Regions from separate parts of the Homo sapiens genome. Here region 1 is linked to region 2. Evidence: fine-mapped expression QTL. A gene starts in region 2. The other region holds a variant in brackets. All regions are shown on one strand. Distances are from middle to middle.

The links. PIP is the estimated chance that this variant, and not a neighbour inherited with it, causes the effect.
Region 1: its variant is fine-mapped to the expression of SPINDOC in whole blood (INTERVAL, PIP above 0.99).

What each region holds. Positions count from the first base shown.
Region 1 is chr11:63,632,481-63,635,385 of GRCh38, forward strand. It overlaps ATL3 (atlastin GTPase 3), which reads right to left. Exons shown (of 13, transcript NM_015459.5): 11 at 546-617. The region is part of intron 1 of LNCROPM (lncRNA regulator of PLAAT3 mediated phospholipid metabolism); the gene reads left to right. It also overlaps the pseudogene IMMP1LP1. Among named protein-coding and RNA genes, the nearest start is that of LNCROPM, 18 kb to the left of the region's middle. The variant AAAG/A (reference allele first, on the strand shown) is at 1,721.
Region 2 is chr11:63,812,345-63,815,249 of GRCh38, forward strand. It overlaps SPINDOC (spindlin interactor and repressor of chromatin binding), which reads left to right and starts at 1,112. Exons shown (of 6, transcript NM_138471.3): 1 at 1,112-1,469. The coding sequence starts at 1,343. RefSeq lists a silencer at 748-1,217.

The sequences.
Region 1 (2,905 bases), 180 kb before region 2:
TTTGGAAGGAGACAAAATCCTCACCACTAGTCCATCAGATTTCTTTAAAAGCTACAGTTATGTCCCAGTGGGTCATGTTTGGTTAGAAGGTGATAAATCTACAGAATTCTACAGATTCCAGTTACTATGGACCTATTCCATATGAACTAATAAGAGGACGAATCTTCTTTTAAGATTCGGCCTCTGAGTGATTTTGGATTTTTATGTGCCAGCCTTAATGGCCACAGATTTTCTGATGATTAGTAAGCATTTATTCTTTTGACTTGATTATTGTCTCCTGCTCATGTGAATTTATTACTCCCATTGAAACTATGTACTTACCAATAAACTATTTGCTATTCAAAACAAAACAAAACAAAACAAGAACAAACAAACAAACAAAGAAATGGTAATAATTAGAAGGCCCCCGTTACCAGGACAACCTGAATATAAGTTTATTGCCTCATCACTTAAAGATACATTAAGTAGGATCAAGTTGGGCTTTTGAAGTCAGCAACAATGCCCAGATTATAGATATTTCAGAATAAGGCGTATGTCCCACGTACCTCTTCCATGTTGTTATAATAAATGTCCTTGGCAGAGGCTGCAGCTGCTAAGTTGTTGGCTTCAGCAGTGGCCTTTTAAGAGAGAAAAACGTGAACTGTAAATCCTTCCTCTTTTAACATTCCTCCACAAATAACCTAACAAAAATCTTCTCTATTCCCCATTCTTCCTTTTTTATTAACCTTCTATTTTTCTAGATTTCCATATAGTTCAACTGATGAAATAGAATACACTTTTTCTGCCAAATTTTCTACCAAAAAAAGGTAGAAGTTCATATACATAGAAATATGTATTCTTATACATAAGAATCTTTAGCAAAAATTAAATCTCCAAAATTCAAGGAAAATATTATTTCCATTGCATCAATTTATTTTTTAATTGTTTAAATTTTTCTTTTTTTTTAAGACAGAGCCTCACTCTGTCACCCAGGCTGGAGTTCAGTGGTAATCTCAGCACACTACAACCTTCGCCTCCTGAATGCAAGCCATCCTCCTGCCAGTGCGTGCCACCACGCTTGGCTAACTTTTTAAGTTTTTGTTTTGCAGAGCTAGAGTCTCCCTATATTGCCCAAGCTGATGTTGAACTCCCAGGCTCAAGTGATCTGCCCACCTCAGCCTCCCAAAGTGCTGGGATTACAGGAGTAAGCCACCACACCTGGCTCCATTGCTCCAACTTTAAGAAATAGATGTGAGTCAAAAAAAAAAAAAAAAGAAGAAGGAAAGGTTGGGCGTGGTGGCTCACGCCTGTAATCCCAGCACTTTGGCACTTTGGGAGGCCGAGGCTGGCGGATCATAAGGTCAGGAGTTCAAGACCAGCCTGGCCAACATGTTGAAACCCCATCTCTACCAAAAACACAAAAAAATTAGCCAGGCGTGGTGATGTGCGCCTGTAGTCCCAGCTACTCAGGAGGCTGAGGCAGGAGAACTACTTGAACCCAGGAGGTAGAGGTTGCAGTGAGCCGAGATCACGCCACTGCACTCCAGCCTGAGCAATAGAGCAAGACTCTGTCTCAAACAAAAAAAAAAAAAAAAAAAAGGAAAAAGCCGGGTGTGGTGGCTTACGCCTGTAATCCCAGCACTTTGAGAGGCTGAGGTGGGAGGATCACTTGAGTCCAAGAATTCAACACCAGCCTGCTCAACACAGCTAGATCCTGTTTCTATTTAAAAAAAAAAAAAAA[AAAG/A]AAGAAGAAGAAAAAAAAGGGGGCTGGGCGCGGTGACTCACGCCTGTAATCCCAGCACTTTGGGAGGCTGAGGCGGGCAGATCACGAGGTCAGGAGATCGAGATCATCCTGGCTAACACGGTGAAACCCTGTCTCTACTAAAAATACAAAGAAATTAGCCGGGCGTGGTGGCAGGCGCCTGCAGTCCCAGCTACTCGGGAGGCTGAGGCAGGAGAATGGCGTGAACCCAGGAGGTGGAGCTTGCAGTGAGCCGAGATTGTGCCACTGCACTCCAGCCTGGGCAACAGAGCAAGATTCCACCTCAAAAAAAAAAAGGAAAAAATTATTTGCAATGTCAATCCCAGGCTCTAGCTCCCTTTATGAAAATTTTCTGCTACAAAATAAATCAACACTTGGCAATAAATCCCCTTATGTTCAACATATGAAAGTCAAAAATTATGTTTTAACCAAATGACATTCTAGTTGCAAATTAAAAACCTGATTAGTGAATAGTAAACAGGTGTGTCAGGACATGTTCCACTAAAGTAAATAACAGGTCAGGCACAGTGGCTTACACCTGTAATCTTAGCACTTCGGGAAGCTGAGGCAGGCACATCGCTTGAGCCAAGTTTGAGACCAGCCTGGGCGACACAGCAAGACCACATCCCTATTTTTTTCTTTTAATTAAAAAAATTATAGCCAGGCATGGTGGCTCACCCCTATAATCCCAGCACTTTGGGAGGCCAAGACGGTCGGATTGCTTGAGTCCAGGAGTTGGAGACCAGCCTGGGCAACATGGCTAAACCGATCTCTATTAAAAAATACAAAAATTAGCCAGGCATGGTGGTACATGCCTATAATCCCAGCTACTCGGGAGGCTGAGGTATAAGAATCACTTGAACCCAGGAGGTGGAGGTTGCGGTGAGCCAAGATTGTGCCACTGCACTCCAGCCTTGGCAAGAGTGAGACTCTTGTCTCAAAAAAATAATAAATTAGAAATTATATAAAAATAAAAAAAATAAACAACAGATGACAAGAACTTGCTTGTCTAACATGGTGGGTATGTTTCAACCACGTATAATAAACTGTGCTTCCCAAAGTGTGTTTGGTGAAAAGACTAGGCCCAGTGAGGAGAGGCCATTTCGTTTTAACTGTACCACCATGAATACAAACAAGTGAACTAGAAAAGGTCGCCACACTACT
Region 2 (2,905 bases):
CGGGCATGGTGGCACGTGCCTGTAGTCCCAGCTACCCAGGAGGCTGAGGCGGGAGAATAGCTTGAACCTGGGAGGCGGAGGTTGTGGTGAGCCGAGATAGCGCCACTGCACTCCAGCCTGGTGACAGAGCGAGACTCTGTCTCAAAAAAAAAAAAATTAAAAAATTGACTGCAATCCATATAGACTAGTTCACACCTCTTCTCACACCCCCATCCTACTACGCGATTCTGAATACTACTGTGTCTGGTCTGATATAACGACATTCGAAGATGGATTTTCAGTGTCAGACATTTTGCATTTTCTGAGCTGAAATCTCATGAGGGTTGCTATAGAAGAGGGAGATGCACATTCCATGTCACAGAAGTAAAAGCTCACCCAGAGTGTGGTTATAGGGCAGCAATGTCATGGCAACTGGACTCTGGTCTTGGGGCTCTCAAGGGATTGCTGTGTGTCCTTGGAGAGGGTCACAAAATCTCCGGACTCCCGTGCCAAAAATGGAAATCATACCCATCAGGGTGGTTTATGTCCGCTCACAGTCCACTCTGCTTCTCTTCTTTGCCTTCCCAGAAGGGTCCAAAATGGTTTTTGAAAGAAACGATGAGCCGGACTAAGAAAACAGATAATGTGCCCACGGCCACGGAGCTGGCAGATGAGAAGGAATTCGGTCTCTGCGTTTCCATACCAAGGCCCTTTCCACTCACCCACCGCTTCTCTTCCTGCCCGGGGCATCTGCTGGCGGAGGAAGGCTTGTCCACGGAAAGGCAAAAGCGACTCCCGATCAAAATCCGGGGGCACCTGGTAGCGCTCTCCACGCCAGCAGAAACGCCCAACTGACTTCTTAATGGAGGGAAACCCCGGGCTTGGCCCGCAGACTGAGGGGCCCGCGTTGCGGGTTTTGGGGGCCCCTCTGCCTCTGCGCACCGGGTGGCCCCGGGTCCCCTCGGCCCTTCCCGCCGCCTCCCGGGTCCAGGGTTTCTAACGGGGCCGCGTGCCCGGGGCGGGGCCACGCGCGATTGGCCGCGCGGCATCGGGGGCGGGTCCGCGGCTGGCCGGCCGGGCGGGCGCCGACAATGAGCCTCCATAAAAGGGAGCGGCGGGGGGCAGGGGCCCCGGATTGAGCCCTCCCCGCCCGGGCTCCCGACGCGCCGAGGTCTCGGGGAGGCCCGGACGCGCCGGTCGCAGGCCCGGCCGGCGAGCGGCGGGCGGGCGGCGGGGAGGGGGCTGCGCGGGGCGGGCGGCGGGCCCGGCGCTATTCCGGCCAGGAGGCGGGAGGCGGTTGCCGGCTGCGCGCCGAAGCCTGCGCGCCAGTCCTCCGGCCACTGCTATCGCCCACGGCCGCACCATGGCCCTAAAGGCCGAGGGCGCCGCACTCGACTGCTTCGAGGTGACGCTGAAATGCGAGGAAGGGGAGGACGAGGAGGAGGCCATGGTGGTGGCCGTAATTCCGCGGCCCGAGCCGATGCTCAGAGGTGAGGATGGAGGGGATTCCACTTCCGCGTCACGGTGCGGGGCCGGGGCTGGGGCCGTCCCTCCCCAGTCGGGGTCCGGGACCCGGGCACCTTCTCACCCCCTTCAGCCTTGGGGCCCAGGTTTCCCTCTCGGATCTGGGTCCAGGGCGCGCTCTTGCACCTCCCCCACCATGGTTTAGAAGCTCAGGCCTCCTCGATTTCCCCCTCCCTTCCCCTTTCCCCCGCCCAGGGTCTGGAGACTTCGATCCACGCCCCGCACGCTCCGGATCTTCCGGTGCCCAAGCGCCCCCTCTCCCGGGCCCAGCACCAGAGGCCGGATCCCCAGAGGCGCTGGGTGGTTGCGGCCGCCGTCTCACAGCCTGGGAAGGGGAGGCAAGCACAACGGCCGGGCTGTGTTCTAGTCCGAGGGGCGGCGAAGCCTCTAGGCCGGAGGCTACAGGCGGGCGCCGCTGCCGACCTCCAGGAGAATTTTAAGGGCTCTCCGAGCATAACGCTTCCCTGCCCACCACCCCGCTTCATTCCCATTCCCGGGCCTTCCACTTGCAGGAGCCACAGGTGTCAAGTTCTGGAGAGAAGGGATGAATGGGACTGCATACAACAGCTAGTTTGGAAAAGCAGTGCAGTGCTAGAACGAGATTAGCTTTGGGAGGGGATGGGAGGAACAATCTCAGAACACTCGCTCTCCCCTCCCCCTTCACCGATTTCTAGTCCTCAGGAGCTTGCAAACCGTAAGAAAACAAAGAGCCATCTTTGTGGGAGACTTAATATGCATGAAAATGCAAATATATTTCCATTCTCCCACCCCGCTTTTCTTAGGCGGGATAGTACCCAAAAGAGGTTGAGAGCAGCAATGCCATTCATTGAACTTCAGCCGAACAGAATGATGTCTGCCTGCACTGCCTGTCATCCTTTTTGGAACTGGAAGGGTTATAAAATTCATGAGGGAAATAAAGGTCACCTCCCTTCTCGGAGCATTTAGTCCAAAAGATAGGTTGTTTTCCTACTTCTGCTAATATTTGTTGAGTGTTCATTGGGCATTGTCAGAGGCTGTCTCAGTTAATCCTCTCAACCCTGCAAGGGTGGCCTTATCCCCACTGTTAGGGCAGGAATAGACAGGTGAATTCATTCAACCAATATTCACTGGACGTCTACTTTAGGCTGTTTAGGCTAGTGTTTTTAGGCTGGGAAGTAGTAGTAAACAGAGCAACCGAAACCCTGCTCTTGAAGAACATATATATACCAATGGCTAAAGACAGAGAAATAGGTTCATGTATAGTATGTTGGGTGGCAATAAATGGTTCAGAGATCACTAAAGCAGGAAAAGGAGAAAGAGGAGGAATGGGTATTTAATTGAATATATCGAGTGGTTCAGAAAGGGTTTTCTAATAAGGTGAATTTTGAGCACAGACCCGAAGGAAGTGAGGATGCCAACCTTG